Linked DNA regions of Homo sapiens: region 1 is linked to region 2. The links come from fine-mapping of genetic effects on gene expression. A gene starts in region 2. The other region holds a variant in brackets. All regions are shown on one strand. Distances are from middle to middle. Region 1 has its middle 61 kb from the start of IKZF1. Region 2 holds the start of IKZF1 (IKAROS family zinc finger 1).

The links.
Region 1: its variant is fine-mapped to the expression of IKZF1 in whole blood (INTERVAL, PIP above 0.99).

The regions. Positions count from the first base shown.
Region 1 is chr7:50,239,237-50,247,707 of GRCh38, reverse strand. No RefSeq gene overlaps it. Among named protein-coding and RNA genes, the nearest start is that of IKZF1, 61 kb to the left of the region's middle. The variant G/A (reference allele first, on the strand shown) is at 4,198.
Region 2 is chr7:50,300,785-50,309,197 of GRCh38, reverse strand. It overlaps IKZF1 (IKAROS family zinc finger 1), which reads right to left and starts at 4,482. Exons shown (of 8, transcript NM_006060.6): 1 at 4,276-4,482. RefSeq lists a silencer at 4,370-5,169 and an enhancer at 6,024-6,525.

The DNA.
Region 1 (8,471 bases), 62 kb after region 2:
ATCCTTAAGATTCATCCATGTTGTAGTACATGTCAGAATTTCCTTCCTTTTGAAGGCTGAATAACATTTCATTGCATGTAAAGACCATGTGTTTATACCTTCACCTATGGATGGACATGGGTTACTCCTAAGTTTTAGCAATTGTGAATAGTGCTGCTATGGACATGGATGTACAGAGATCTCTTTGAGATTCTACTTTCAGTTCTTTTGAGTATAACCCAGAAGTAGGATTTCTAAATCATATGGTAATTCTATTTTTAATTTTTTTGAAGAACTGGCATATTGTTTTTCACAGTGGCTATACTACTTGACATTCCCACCAGCAAAAGAGTACCAAATCTTCACATCCTCACCAACACTTGCTATTATTATTATTTTTGATATTGGCCATCTTGATGGGTGTGATGTGCCTATGTGTTTTGATATGTAGTTTTTGAAGTAATGTTTATTTAACAATTTAATAATGTTCCAAAAGTTATATATTCTTCAATAGAGGAGTTATTTGGAAGTGTAATTTAAATTTCACAGGTTATATATATTTCAGTTATTTTTTAAATAAATTACATTCATGTCTGTACTTAAGATTTGCTTGTTTCTAACACCTAAAATTAAATGTTGTTATTATTTCTATTATTATTTTGTCATACAGTCAATAGTTATTTAGATTTACCCATCAGATTTACTAATGTATTTACTTATTATTTTTTCTTACAGGTTAGATTTTCCATCTGAGTTCATATTTCTTATTTAAAAAAACACCTTTAGAATTTCTCTTCAGTTGGTGTCTATAGATCCATTTTTGTTTATCTGAGAACATTTTCTATTTTTCCTCTGTATTCTAGAGTTTTACTAGATGTACAACTCTAGATAGATCTTTCTGCCAGCACCTCCGTGATATTATTCCATTGTCTTCTGGTTTCCATTACTGCTGTTGCAAAGTCAGCTGTCAGTGGAATTGCCATTTAATTTCAGGTTTTTGTCTTTTCTTTGACTAATTTTCAGATCTTTACTTTGTCTTTGGTGTTCTGAAACATCAGCACTTTGTATCTAGGTATGAATTTTATTTTATTTATTTTGTTTGAGATTATCTGGGCTACCTGAATGTTAAGAGAAACGTCTAATAATCAGCTCTTGAATATTTTCAACCATTACCACAAAAGATATTGTCCTATTTCTCTCCTACTAGACTCTGAATGAATGTTAAACCATCATAATCTATTTTCCATGTCTCTTAATAACCTCTCTTTATATTTAGCATCTCATTTTCTTTATGTGCATAGTCTAAATAATTTCTTAAGATTTAAGTATCAGATAAATAATTATTCAGCTATATATAATTTGTTTTCTATTGTACTTCAAATTGAAATACTTTAAGAAATTTTTAGAAGTTTGATATACTTTTATTTTCTAACATGCCTAATCATATTTTCATATCACTGGTTGTTACTCATGATACCCTATTTCCTTTTGCTTTTGATGTTCCTTTGACATTTATCTGTGGGAAAATTCTGGGAGAAATGAATTGAAATGGGTTTTCTTGGAAAGAATTTGTGTTTCCTTCTAGGAAATTATGGGTACTATTAATCTGAGACAGCTTGAATTCCTGGCTTTAAATTTTTCAGGCAATACAGATAGCCAGAATTTGAGTTTGAAAATGCATGTGAATGTCATCTAGGAACAATGAAATCTCAGTAGAGATATTTATCCTTTTACATAGTGTCATTGTCAAGGTAGGCAACTTTTACTTTTGTGTCCTTAAATGAGGTAATTTTGTTTCTAAATTGCCCTATCCTTCTGTCTTTTGACTTTAAGTAGACATCTCTTTGGTGCCCCAACTTGGGAAAGTACTAGGCTTATTTCTTGTTCCTTGTGCTCCAAGTGTAGACATGAAACCAGAAAGTTAACTTCAGTAGGATTCAACTGATGCTTCTGGGAAAAAGACAGCTTAAGTACTTGCTTATGTCATTGGATTCTTTTTTTAATTATTTATTTGATTTTGAGAAATACATTAAATATATTTTAAAATATGTTTTATATTGTATTTTGTTTGTTCCATGGGAGAGTATCTCAGGACATTCTACCATAATGCCAGAAATGGAATTCAGTTTTTAAAAGCAATTTTCATGGACCTCAAAAATTGAATATTTAATCACACTTCCAAGTTTATGATACACTATAACCATTAGTCCACCCCATTGTCATTGTTCTCCTCATGTAGACAATCAACATCATGTGTTCAACATGTATTTTGGAGGTGTTCTTTCAAAATGTGCATTGCTAACTGTGTGCATGGTAACAGGTGCATCACACACATGTTATAATCTCATTTTCTTTATTACTTTTTCGTAGTAAGTGCTATTTTTAAAGATTTCTCTGTGTCTGCCTATGTACATCTAATCTGTTTCTTCTAACTGTTAAGTAATGCTCCATTGCAAATACCCACCACATTTTACTGATCCATTCTTCTTGCATAAATTTCATTGTGGTATTCAACTGTATATTTTCTTGTGCCGCCATAGTGAAAGCTATAGGGAACATCTTGATACTCGTGCTGTTGAGAATTCCTGGGTTATATCTGGGGTATGATTATACTTAATTTAACTAATGGTACCAGATTGCTCTCTGCAATCACTAAAGTCAGTCTATACCTCCACAAGCCATGCAAGAGAGGATGTGCATTCCACATAATCTCCAAATGCTTTACTCTATCTTGCTTTCTAATTTTGTTACCTATAAGTCTTGTCCACGGTTCCTGCTACTGAACAGAAATATTTAGCTTTTGTATGCTCCATTGGCAGTTTTCTTTACTTAAGGTTTATGCTTTTGTTACCCTTCTAGATCACTAAGATACTGCTGTACATTTTTCTTAGTCAGACTTTGTTGTTTCTTCTTTTACATTTAAATCTTTAATTCAGCTCAATCTGGGCTATTCACTTAGTAGCCAAGAGTCACATGTAGCTACCAAACACTTGAAGGTAGCTAGTACAACTAAGAAACTAAATTTTAATTTTGTTTGGTTTTAATTACTTTAAACTTAAAAACTTAATCAGTGTAAAATCATACATAATGTATTGTTTTGAGTTTAACTATTGCACCATGTAAGATATTGCTTTATTGTGGTGTATGTGCTGGGCACATGCATTATTTCTGTTGGCAGACATAAACATTACCAATATAATTGGCATAAAACAATTTTTTTAGTCCAAATGATTTTTTCTATGTGCTGATGTAACATTGTAGATTGTTTATTTTAATATATTGCAAAAGCATCAAGACTTAGAGTGATGCCTAAGTAAATTATAATCAGTAATTACATTAAAAATTATATTATTATTTGATATAGTTTGTTTTTTTCAGTGTAAAAATAATATTAACAAATTTTTACATTTAAAATAAAATCACACTACTGCTACAGATTCAAATGCAGATGCAGATGTGTGTAATACAATGGGAAACATTTTTAAAAAGACAAAGATTGGAAAAAAGTATGTCACAAATTTCATAATAAATAACAATTACAAATTGTTGTATCAGTAAAAAAAGCAAGTTTTAAAGATAATAAGGTAGATAATATTAAGAGATGTTTTCAGCACATACATAGTGAATTTAATAAGATGCTTCCTCTCAATAGTCAAAAAAGCATTGACAATAATTAACTGAAATCAGAATTAAATGATCAACACAAAACTTTTAAATGATTTTCATCAGAAACTGGGCTTATAACTTTGGCTAGCTATAAACTGAATTAAATTATTGAACAGGGAAAATCATTTTTAGTCAGAAAGACGGCAAAAATCATGATTAATTTATGAAAAATTTGTTAGAAAGTTGTAAGAAAAAGACTAAAAAAGATATTTTACTGTAAGCAAAAGACCTGTAGCTAAGCCACAGAAAATTTGCCCATAAAGTGCAATACCTTTCTCACAATATCAAAGATTAACTGATTCAACATTTTAAAAACTGTCAGTACCTCTGGATGCATCTTGTGATATGAGATGCTACTCAACTAATGCTTTGAATATATTTTGTCTCAAAAAACTACCAAATTTATGTAGAAATACTATCAATTCACAATCTAAAAATTTAAACTTGTGATATAAATACTGTTGAATCTTTTGAATTTTTCAAAGAAGGATTTCAGATAGATATGAAAAAGTCAATTTCTATCACAACAGAGTATTCCAGCTATGTTAGGTC[G/A]AAAATCTGAATTCACTAGAATTTTAAAATGAGAGACTGATATTTCCTTTATTGCTTCATTCCACAGTATGTAAGTATTGAAAATACTTTTGTTTAGTTTCATGAAGCTTTTAACTTCTGTTAAAGGTATTATGAATGTAGAATTGCAATCTACAGCATAATGTAAAATGGCTGCAAAGCATACAGGAAAAGTTTGGAGTATGCTTTGTTGATATGGATAATTATGGTACAATAACCTCTTTGATTTTATGTTAATGATGCTTACTGATACATGAGTTAATGAAATTATTTAACTTGGACAGACATACTATTGGTACCAATATGCTTTTTCTTCAAGTTAAATCGATTTTTAAAAAATAAGTGGATTAATTTTACCAATGTGGATTCAAACATTAAACAAAAGTGATTTTTATTTCATGCACAATTTAATTGTTGAAAATTTATTAAGTATGTTTAGAACAGCTTGGATACATGAATCAACTGTAAATTTCAACTGTAAATTTTCTGAAATCTAACATAGATAAATTGTTTCCAGTGAGATTTAGAGATGGATCAAAATGGGTTGTAAGTGTAAAATACACACCATATTTTGAAGCCTTAGAATAAAAAGAGGTAAAATGTATCAATAAGTTTTAAAATATTGATTACATGTTTAAATAATAATATTTTGGACACATTGGGTTAAATAAAATATATTACTAAAGTTAGTATACCTGTTTCTTTTTACTTTTTAAAATATGACAATTAGAAAATTTACAGTTACATCTACCTCTCACTTTATATTTCTATCGGGTAACATTGACCTAAAGCACTCATTTTAGAGAGCTAGTTTATTTTTCTTTATGTCATGGATCAGTTTTCCCAAAACTATCTTCTAAAAAATCTCCCACTTATTTTTGTATACTACCTTTATTGACCATACACACGTTGGTCTCCCTCTGAACTCTATTCTGTGCCATTGGTCTAGGTTTCTATTATTTTGCTTACCCTTCATGGATTTGTAGTATTTGTAGTGTGGTGTAATATTTCTGTGTTTATGTAAATCTCTTTCTTTCCCTCTTTCTTTCTCCTTTCCTTTCCTTTTGTTCTTTCATTCTTTCTCCCTTCCTCCCCCTCTTTCTCTCTTTCTCCCTTTCTCTCCTCCTCCCTTCCTTCCTCTTTCTCTCCTCCTCCCTTCCTTCCTCTCTTTCTTTCTTTCCTTCTTTTTTTCTTTCTTTCTTTCTTTCTTTCCTTCTTTCTCTCTCTCTTTCTTTCTTTCTTTTTTCCTTCCTTCCTTCCTTCTTTCCTTCCTTCCTTCCTTCTTTCCTTCCTTCCTTCCTTCCTTCCCTTCCTTCCTTCCTTCCTTTTATTGAACAGAACTACTATGAATAATGACAATTGACTGTATAAGTAATTGGTTTTTGCTAGTGTTTAGAAACACTATTGAATTTTTCAGATTAAGTTTGTCTACAGAAAAGTTGGCAAATACTATTTTTAGTCTTAATAGTTTCTTTGATAATTCTGTTGCAATTCCTGCATAAAGTAATCATGTTATACAAAAATAAGCATACCATTATGTCTTCTCTCCAAGTCCTACACCAAAACCAGGTTAAATGGTAATGATGGTTATGGCTATTATTTTCTGTTGCCAATTTAAATAAAATACATCCACATTTCCTTCATCAAGTAGATGTATACTCTAAATTGTTTTTTTTAATAAAATTAATGAAGCTCTGTTCTATCTCAAGGCTATTTTTCTCCATTTTATTGAAATAATTATATTTTTTTCTTAGTATATTAAGATTGCAGATTGCATTATAAATTTTCTGATATTAAATCATACCTGTACTCCTGGGATTTTAATGATAATATTTTATTTATTTATTTTTATTTAAATAGTTTTTGGGGTACAGGTGGTTTTTGGTTACATGGATGAGTTCTTTAGTGGTGAGTTCTAAGATTTTAGTGCACCTGTCACCTGAGCAGTGTACACTGTAGCCAATATGTAGTATTTTATTCCTCAACCACCTCCCATCCTCCCCATGTCCCAAGTCCTCAAAGTCCATTGTATTGCTCTGTATGTCTTTGCATCCTCATAGCTTATCTTCCACTTACAAGTGAGAACATGTGGTATCTGGTTTTTAATTCCTAAGTTACTCACTTAGAGTAATGGCCTCCAGTTCCATCCAAGTTGCTGAAAAAGACATTATTTTGTACCTTTTTTTTATGGCTGAGTAGTCTGAATAGTATTCCATGGTGTCAATATACCACATTTTTTTTAATCCACTAGCTGGTCAATGGGCACTTAGATTGGTACAATATCCTTGCAATTGTGAGTTGTGCTGCCACAAACATGAATGTGCATGTTTGTTTTTCACATAATGGCTTCATTTCCATTGAGTAGCTACCCAGTTGTGGGATTGCTGGATTGAATGGTAGTTCTACTTTTAGTTCTTTAAGGAATCTTCATACTGTTTTCCATAGAGGTTGTACTAATTTACATTCCCTCCAGCAATATAAAAGTGTTGCCTTTTCACCACATCCAAGCCAACATCTATTGTTTTTTGACTTTTTAATTATGACTATTCTTGCAGGAGTAAGGTGGTGTCTCATTGTGGTTTTAATTTGCATTTGTTTGATGATTAGTGATGTTAAGCATTTTTTCATGTGTTTGTGGGCTGTTTGTATATCCTCTTTTGAGAATTGTCTATTCATGTCCTTTGCCCACTTTCTGATGAAATTATTTGTTTTTTTCTTGCTGATTTGTTTGAGTTCTTTGTAGATTCTGGATACTAGTCCTTTGTTGGAGGCATACTTTGTGAATATTTTCTCCCACTCTGGATTATGTGTTTACTCTGCTGATTGTTTCTTTTGCTGTACGGAAGCTCTTTAGTTTAATTAGGCCACATTTATTTATTAATTTTTTGGCATTTGCTTTTGGAGTCTTAGTCATGAATTCTTTGCCTAAGCCAATGTCCAGAAGAGTTTTCCCAATGTTATCTTCTAGAATTTTTGTGGTTTCAAGTCTTAAATTTAACTCTTTGCTCAATCTTGAGTTGATTTTTGTATAGGGTGAGAGATGGCAATCCAGTTTCATTCTTCTATATGTGGCTTACCAGTTTCCCAGCACCATTTATTTAATAGGGTGTCCTTTCCCCAATTTATGTGTTTGTATACTTCATTAAAGATCAGTATTTTGTTTATTTCTGGGTTCTCTACTCTGTTTATTTCTGGGTTCTCTATTCTGCTCCATTGGTCTAAGTTCCTATTTTTATATCAGTACCATGCTGTTTTGGTAATGGTAGCCTCGTAATATAATTTGAAATCCAGTAATGTGATGCCTCCAGATTTGTTCTTTTTGCTTAGTATTGCTTTGACTATGTGAGTTCTTTTTTGGTTCCATATGAATTTTAGTAATTTTTTTCTAGTTTTGCAAAGAATGATGATGGTATTTTGATGGGCGTTGCATTGAATCTGTAGATTGCTTTGGGCAGTGTGGTCATTTCCACAATATTGATTCTCTCTATCCATGAGCATGGGCTGTGTTTTCACTTGTTTGTGTCATCTGCGATTTCTTTAAGCAGGGTTTTGTAGTTCTCTTTGTAGAGACCCTTCACCTGCTTGGTTAAGTATACTCCAAAGTATTTAATTTAATTAAATTAATTAATTTATTTATTTTTTGCAGCTATTGTAAAAGGGATTGAGTTCTTGATTTGATTCTTAGCTTGGTTGCTGTTGGTTACAGCAGTGCTACTGATTTGTGTACATTGATCTTTCCCAATTTGGATGCCTTTTGTTGCTTTCTGTTGACTGATTGCTCTGGCTAGGACTTCTAGTATTATATTGAATAGAAGTGGTGAAAGTGGGCATTCTTGTGTGACAATATTTTAAACACACTATTATATTTAGTTCGTTATATTTTATTTAACATTTTTGCTTCTATATTCATAAGTAACATGGATCTATAAATTTTTGCTTTTTTATTTGCATGGACTTTATATTTTGTTTGGAAACCAAGAATACACTAACTTTACAAAATATATGGGACCTTTTTTATTCAAGCCTGGAACCACTATTTCCTCAAAGTTTGGTAGGTCTGATTCAAAGTCAAATGTATAAGTTAATCATATCAAATTATGAGACTGTATAGGACAAAAGGTGTCTTTAAAATTTTACTAATGTCAGTGTTATTGATAATTTGTTTAGTTTGTTTCCAAACTTTCTAAAATGTTCCTCATAGACTCTAACAATTTGCTTTTTTACAGAACATTTAAAAATATAGACTTACTGGTCTC
Region 2 (8,413 bases):
ATATGAAGAAAGCACTTTTCCACTAATTAGGACCCATTTTCAGCCATTTGTTAAGCCGTGGCCCCGCGCCACGAGCTATCAGGAGGTGGAGCATGGGGCCATCCGAAAGCAGAGCGTTCAGACGGAGCATAATGATGCTCTCCATCACCCGAGACAGGTGGCCTGCACAGGGATATGGGGAGCTGCTCTGGGCTCAGGCCACCCACTGTGGAAACACCAGCAGGGAAGACGGAAGAACACAATGGCTATTCCAATCCATGCAAGCACACAAAGAAACCGTGTGGCACTCACCAACCAACCGAGGCCTCGCCAAGGCCAAGTGAGAGCTGCCTTTTCCACACAAATCCAGACTTTGAGGACCTAGGGCTGCTCGGAGTTCCCCTCAGACCCAGCCACCTGGGAGGGATCTTGGTGCCTGGCTACAGGGCCTCTGTGTCCTCTTCCTCCTCCAAAAGGTTCCTCTGCTGCCTTCACACTCCACCAGGGTGCAGAGAAAGGTGGAACCACTTGCCAAATATGCAAAAAAGGAGGGAAGACCGTTTTCTCTTAGGAAAACACAGACAGGAAGGGAGCCTGTGCTTCCTGTCCTAACCAAAACGAGTTCAGAAATTATGTGGACGTCTGATTTGTCAGGCTTGTGGTGGAAAAGGGTGCTCTTTTAGTCAACAGGAATTGTGAGTTCCCCAAAGGCAGAAATGGCCATGGGAGAAAAGAATTAAGGCCAGGCCTGTTAACAGGCAAGACAAATGGCCCCCACACCTGTGACCTAGGGTTTGCACCATTTTTAACAGTTTATTACCAGGTGGTTGGCTGAAGGCTCCACTGGCAACTACCTATTTATTATAGTCAAACATGAGAGGGAAAAACGTCAACTGAAACAATTTGGCAGTTGCCTGTAGATTAGGCCTCAGTTGCTCTTCCTCCAGGCCCTTCTCAGGAGTAACCACCAAGGAGACACCAAAATGGGCAGGCCCGCACTTCGCCACTTAAAAACCTTCTGCAAACCTTCTTTTGCTTGCTGTTTTATCTCACTTGTAATATATGGCACTTCATAAGGTTTCATAATGTCTTAAAAAATATTTGTTGGAATATTACCAAACATTTAAAAACTCAAACTAAAGCTACTAAAGTGACGACACTGAAACTTTAAGGACATAAACATATATTCCAGGAGATGTGGAAAGGTAACCTGAGATATGAAGTCATTTATTAAACTGCAAAGAAATACAAGAAAGCCATGGTCCACATGAAGACACCAGCATGAGTGTTCAGTCAGCACTACAGTAAAAACAGCTTTGTTACTGTCGATATCCTTTGGTTTTAGGTGCTCTGCGTCCCTAACAAAACCTCATTCCTATCTTGTTCCTCATCTGAATTTTAAGTGTGTGTGTGTGTGACAGTGTGTATAATGCTGATCCTCTGAAACTCTACGTTTCTAAGACCTAGATCAAAAATGTACATGTGCCCTTTTTGAGCAAAATAAAACTGATCTGTTTTCAAGACGTGAAATAGATTAATGTTTCTCTTCTTGTAAGCTTCAAAGGATGGGTCACTTGTTGCTTTTACATCTTGTGTTTTCTCCCATAAAATGGAATGATTATTCAGCACAAATATGAAATGGAATAGAGCTGAAGTCTCTGTAGTTATGAACATAGAGACACCAGAGAGAGAACAATGTTCACAGCCAGGACAGGAGCTGCAGCAACTCTGCCGCTAGAAGCAGGCGTCACAGTGCCCCCAGAGTGCTTGTCAGTCTTAGAAACAGAGGCATCGGAAGACAAGCGTTTTCAGAGAACGCAAAAAGGTCGTGGTTTACCTTCTGTAAGCTGGAGTGGAGCCACTTACATCAATCTCCCTTAGAATATGACAAGAACCAACATTTATTTCATAGTGAAATTATTTCACAAGTCCAAAGATTAGAGGAGGAAAAAAAAAATGCCACAAAACAGTGATATCCTTGATGAATTCTTCGTTAACCACAGTTACATTACATTAATACGTACAATTATGCAACACTCAAAAAACGTTATTTATGCCTAAAATTCACCATTATATAACATAGGGAAATCCATCTTGTTTTAGTAAAAGTTTAAAAATAAAGGGGGCCTTTAATACTCATTTCAGGTCTGTTTGATGTTAAAACTCTTCCACACTGCCCCATGCCTCTCACTCCACGCTGTGTGCATGCTGTGTGTGTGCACGCTCTGTGTGCATATGTGCATATGCACATGGAATTTATTTCATGTATCTGTTAATAAATGCATAATCTTGAAGTGTGTGTATAAGTACATTAATATATAGAGAGTTCTTTCCTATTTCAAAATTTTTGACATTTATATTGAAAATATGCTATATTAACCACGCATGAAACACACACATCCAAATCAAGAACAAAAAATGTATCCAAACCAAAGAACCACTGTTCTCAAACTCCAAGTCTCTAGTCAAACAAGGAAGACAGTGGCCTGCAGTACAACAGGGCTTTAGACCTCTTGGCTAATACATTCACTGCGATCTTAGTTTTTCGACAAAGGAAATGGCTACAAACGGCCACAGCTGATCTTCTCTTTAGGAGCCTGTGTAAAACTCTTCGAAAGGGTCAAACCTAACACATCCAGACTTTTATCTGCAGCCCTTGTGGTCTCCTGGAGACCCTGAGGGTGGGTGATTATTGCTATGATGTTTCTGCATTAGGGGGGTGTGTAGTTTTCCAAGAGGTACCACTCTAATTAGAACACTGATGAATTAAACAAGTACTGGAGAGTTTCTAAACTCCTTCCTTCAACTCTCACCGTGAAACAAAAGGGGAAGAAAACATGACCATTTAGTTCAATAAAATGTTCTGGTCACCAGCTCTGATTGACTGTGAGACTTAAGAGTCACGTTTTTTTTCATGTAAAAAATGTATGAAATATGTTCATGGTGAAATTGGAAATCAGATACATTCCATCAAGCAAGAATAGTGTAGTATTTTTAATGTGACATCATTATTTGTATGTGTACACATTATTTCTTTAACTTGTTCTGCATTTTACAAGATGCCAGCGTAAGAAGGTGAATCTTCTTGTCATGAATATTTGCCTCGTGTACATTTTAAGCCATAGCCCAAATGATCTGATTTGTCACGGAAATAATTCTGACACATTCTAATATAAATAATACTGAAATTGTTACTTTTTAAAATTCCATATAAAAGATGAGTACAATAAAACTCATTGAACAAACATCTTCAAACAAAGAAATAAACTCAAGAGGACCCAGGACATTTCTATGTGGGTCCCCCCCACCCCTCGACTCATAACCAAATTGAACCTGGCCTTAAAAGCATTTGAATGTCTATGAAAGTTTAAATATCATACGCAGTATTTTCAAATTCCATAAATTTTCCTCTTTTAACAGAAGTTGATGGGACTAGTAAGGAGACATTTCCTCAACACCATTTTGTCTGGAATTTTAAAACAAGGTATCTCAAAGCTGAAATATACTGCCTGCGGCGCAGTGGGAAATTGTGAGTGGGTAACCTAAGCAAAGCGCACCGCATTGAAATTCAGTCTGGGTGGGCTGCAGTCCCTAGAGAGAGGGAAGCTGCATTTGAAAGCTGTGCCTGGTCAGACCCTATGGAATCGCTACGGTTTTCGGTCATTAGATGCCTCCAAATTAGAAGGAAAAACAAGCCCTCACGAGGTTCCTTAGGCATCAGCAGCGATGCTTGACAAATATTTAAAATACATTTCAAATATAACCGCAAGTAACCTGATGCCTTAATATTACTAAGGGTTTTCCTGAGAAGGTTTGGTGACTTGAGCGTCAAACCTGCGGTCAGCAAAAGGACTAACTTTTCAAAGCCGGGATAATTCCTCTCTTGCAGAAATTAAGTTCAGACTCGATCTCATCATATTTATAGTATAAAAAGAAAGCTCCCGGCTCAAATATAAGGAAAACTCTTTACACACGACTTTATAAAGGCTGACTTCCGTGGGTATATGTAGGTCTACATAAATTTAAATATGGTTGGGAGCTAGAACTCCTCTCCTGGTGACAGCGGGGCTGCTCAGAAGTGTCCCATGTCGGCCTGGTCCTGCACCTGCTGGCACAGTGCAGAGCAACAGACGCTTGACAGAAGTGAACTCTCTCACTGTCCTCAGAAAAGAGAGGCGGACCTGAGCGACACCAGGGTCTACCAACCTTACCGCTTTTCTTTACTGTGTTTTTTTTTTTTTAAATTCACCAGTTACCCCAAGTTTTCCTATTGAAATTCAATTTGAAAACACTCACGTGGATTTGTGCGTCGCGCTTTGGGGCCAAGACTGATCCTCGGGTGCGAAGAGCAACCTCGGAGCCGGGGCTCCCTCTGCCCTGCCAGGCTTGCCCGCCTCGCCGCGGCCGAGCGTCCCGCCCAGGCTGGGATGCGCCGCGCGGGGACCCAGGGGGCTTGCCGCAGTCACCGCCCCGGGCGCGGGCCGCGCAGTCACTTGTTAGAGTGTCCTGCTAACTTGGCCGCGGAGCTCTTCCCAGCTTTCTTTCACAATGACTTCCTGAAGTTGCTCACTCGCATTGTTCCCCATTTCTCCGCCACACTCCCCGCCCCCAGCCGGCTCAGACCAGGCTTTCGCGCTCCCGGCCGACCGGCTGCCCCGCGCGCACAGCGCCGCCCGCGGGCCCCGTACCTGGCCCCCTCCGCGCCGGCCGCCCCCGCCGCGCCCTTGCGTTGCCACCAGCTGCCGCCCAGAGCGGCGGGTGGCCAGAGCGCGCGCCCTGCCACCCCGCAAACTTTGGGGTGACGCACGCTGGCGGTCCCTGCTCGACCTGCCCCGCAGCCGGCTCGGCCCCGCGCGCACCTCTCGGCCGCCTCCCGGATCGCTGCTCCGGTACAGGGAGCGGGGCGCGCAGAAGGGCGCAGAGCGGGACACGGAGAGGGTGCGTCGTCCCGTCCCCGCCCCGTCGCCGAGTCCCCCGGCTCGCGCGGCGCGCGTCTCAGCCGCAACTCCGGGCCAGAGGGGCCGCGCACGAAAACTTTGCAATCGCGCCGGGCTCCGGCTCAGCCCCCAAAGGCCGCCGGGGCGGCGGCGGGTGCGGGCCGTACCTGCTGGCGCCGCCGCCGGCTGCAGCCCGCTCGCCCGCGCCGGGCCCGCTCGGCGCGCCGCCGCCACCCCCGCGCGCACCGCGCCCGGGCCCTCCCCTCGCCGCCGCGCTTCCTCATTCCAGCGCAGCATCGCGCCGCGGCCCCGCACGGGATGCGGCGGCCGGCGCTGTGTCCGCGGGCCGGGCAGCCCGGCTCGGCCGCGGCGCTGCGGGACCCGCGCGTAACCCGTGGGGGCGCGGCGCGGGCGACACGTGCGGGCCGCCAGGAGGGGGAGGGGGACGCGCGCCGCCGGGCCCGCCACCCTGCACCCGGGGCCGCTGGTCGGTCGGGGCACCCTCACGCTCGCCCCGCTGGCGAGACTGGAGGGACTCGGGACATCGTAAAGCACTTTCCCCAGTGTCTGGGAGCGCCCGCTGTACGCTCAGCTTCACGTCCCTGGAACTGGGGCCCCTTGGCTCCCGGGTTCAGGCTCCGGCCCCAGGATGCGAGTGCCCACCCGAGGGGGTGGGAAAAGTTGATCCTCCGCAAGGGAGGGGAAGGTGCAATTCATTTTCCCAGACAACCAATGGAATACCTCTCGTCTCTCTTCCCTCCCACCTGCTCACGGCAGAAGTTAGGATGGCGCCTTCCATGTTGGCCTGGGTGCACACACAAGTGCGTGCGGAAGGGTGGCTGCAGGCGGAGGTGACAGCGAAGCAATCCCGCAGCCCGCTCGACGGCTCTTTGCGTCTCAGACCTCTCCCTGGCGTGTAAGACACCGTGTGTCTCCGTAAAACGGGAATGCCACATCTGACAGCGCACCCCTTCGCCCTACGGGGAGCCCCTCACTCTAATTAGCCGGGCTCCACCCGAGCAGGAGCCAGCAATGTGTTCAGCTTGAGCAGGAGAGAAAAAGTCATGAATTCCACAAATGCAGCCTGGGCTCCCGCCAGGCGCTAGGGGAGGGGACCCAGAGGAGTGAGATGCGCCTCCTGCCCTTCCAGACTTGTAGGAGCCACCAGGAAGGCACAGAATAAAAATCCCGGGCACCCCTGTGAGGAGGAGCGCCCTGTGAAGAGGGCCGAGAACGTGCTCCTGCTTGGGCGCGGTGGTTCGGGAAGGCGTGAAGACCCATAGGGAGAGCGATGAAAGACCAAGGGAGCCTCCTCAGGGTAGGACATGCAGGCGAAGAAGGCACAGGCCTTCCGGGTGGAGGACACAGCCGGGCAAGGGAATAAGCAGGAAATGTCCCTTCAGGGCAGTTGAGTGTGGCTGGAGACCATCGCTGCCGGGGAAGGTCTTGGCCTGGCCCAGGAGGCCTCCAAGTCGGGGGCCAGGGCACACCAGAGACAGGATCTGCCTCTGCTGCCTCTGGGAGAAGGCCCTTTACCCGTGAATCACAAACAGCGTCTATCCACATTCTCCCTGAGCGCATATGCAGCTCTTACTACAGTACTCAGTGTGTCCTGAAGGGCATTCCGCTGGGCAAGTCTGAGCCAGTTAACTCACTGCTACAGCCCAGAGAAGGGGAAGGTAGTGAAAGGTCCATTGATTTACCTTCTAGTCCTCTCCTCCACTGCGTGACCTTGGGCAGGTTATCCAAACTCCTGAGCATCATCTTCCTTGTCTATAAAAAGAATACATGCCACCAATCCTAAAGACTCCTTACCTGGATTAAATGAGGCAATAAACATAAGGTACAAGGCCCAGAGGGAGGCCAACAATGTTGTAAAGGGGACACGGGACACCTCTAGTTCTTGGATGCAGAAGTACCTTTAGCCGCTGGTACGTCTCTCTAAACCTGTGCCTTGGTCTTCAGGAGTGGACCAGTGGACCGAAACATAGGCATCTCACCAAGGTGTAGCCCACTGAGGCAGGAGCATGTGGGGCTAAGAGCCCAGATAGTTTGGGCTTATGAATCTGACTGAGGTCCTTAATCTCTCAAAGCCTGAATTTCCCCATCTGTAAATTGGTGGTGATAATATAACCCTCCTGGTGGGGTTGTTTGTGGGTTAAGGAGATCACATATGGAAGACCTTGCCACATGCCTGACAGAGAGGAGTACTTTCCAAGTAAGAACAGTTATTCCCTGCTAGCCCAACCAATGTCCCAATGAGATGAGGAGTGCACTGTGAAGAGTCAGGCTCCTTGGCTGGGTGCAGTGACTCACACCTGAGTTTGGAGCCCAAGGTGGGAAGATCACTTCAAGCCAAGAGTTCCAGACCAGCCTGGGCAACAAAGCAAGACCCTGTTTGTACAAAAAAATTTTAAACTTTAAAAATCAAACCCCATTTGTATTAAAAATTTAAAAATTAGGTGTTATGGTATGCACCTGCAGTCCCAACAACCTACTTAGGAGGCTGAGGCAGGAGGATCCCTTGAGCCCAGAAGTTTGAGGCTGCAGTGAGCCATGATTGACACCACTGCACTCCAGCTTGGGCGACACAGCAAGACCCTGTCACAAAACAAAACAAAACAGCAGTCAGGCTGCAGGTACCATGCCTTACCCTTGCCCCCAACCGGGTGGAGTTGAAGGAAGTCAAGCTTATATTATTATAACCTGGGGTCTGTGGATAGACTCAGAGGGACCAGAGAGGTGATATAAATCAAATGTTCAAACCCTTAGGGACAACAGTAAAATGCACAATGGATGGGAAAACATATAGGGAGAAATTGGAACATGTAAAACTGTTTTTTTTCATATTATGTCTAAAGTCATTTTATTTTATTTACATATTAATTCATATATTGCCCTCTTCATAATGTTAAAGTATTAAATAAAACACTTTAATTTATTCAGGCAATAATTGCTAAATCACCAATTTTTCTTCTTATGAGGCTGTATTATCGAAAGAATAGAGACCACCTATAGGATTAATCAAAGGCTACTTATTCAGAGCTCACTATGGAAAGAGAGGCAGCTAGGCACTTTTGTCCAGGTAGAGCCTGGATGGGATTTTCAAAAGAGAGTGAGTTTTTTACTTTCAAAGGAAAGTAAAAGGATGATTGAGGTGATACGATATGGTTAATAGTTTTGTTTCTTAGTAACTGTGTTTGGCAAGTTGTTTAAAGCCTGAGCTTCAGTTTCTCATCCGCAGAGCACATCTACTTCACAATGGTCTTGATAGAATTACGTGAAATTCAATGAAATAATCTATGGAAGTTATCATAATTGTATTTTTCTTCAATAAAAAAAGATCTGTTAACAGCAATGAAAAGTGCATGTCTCCTCTGATGGTTGGAAAACAGCAAGAATATTTTTAAATAACAGCAAAAGGTTTTTTTTGCTAAAAAATAAAATTTTATTTTATTTATATACCCAGGACTTGGATGAAACTGTTGCAACAAAGA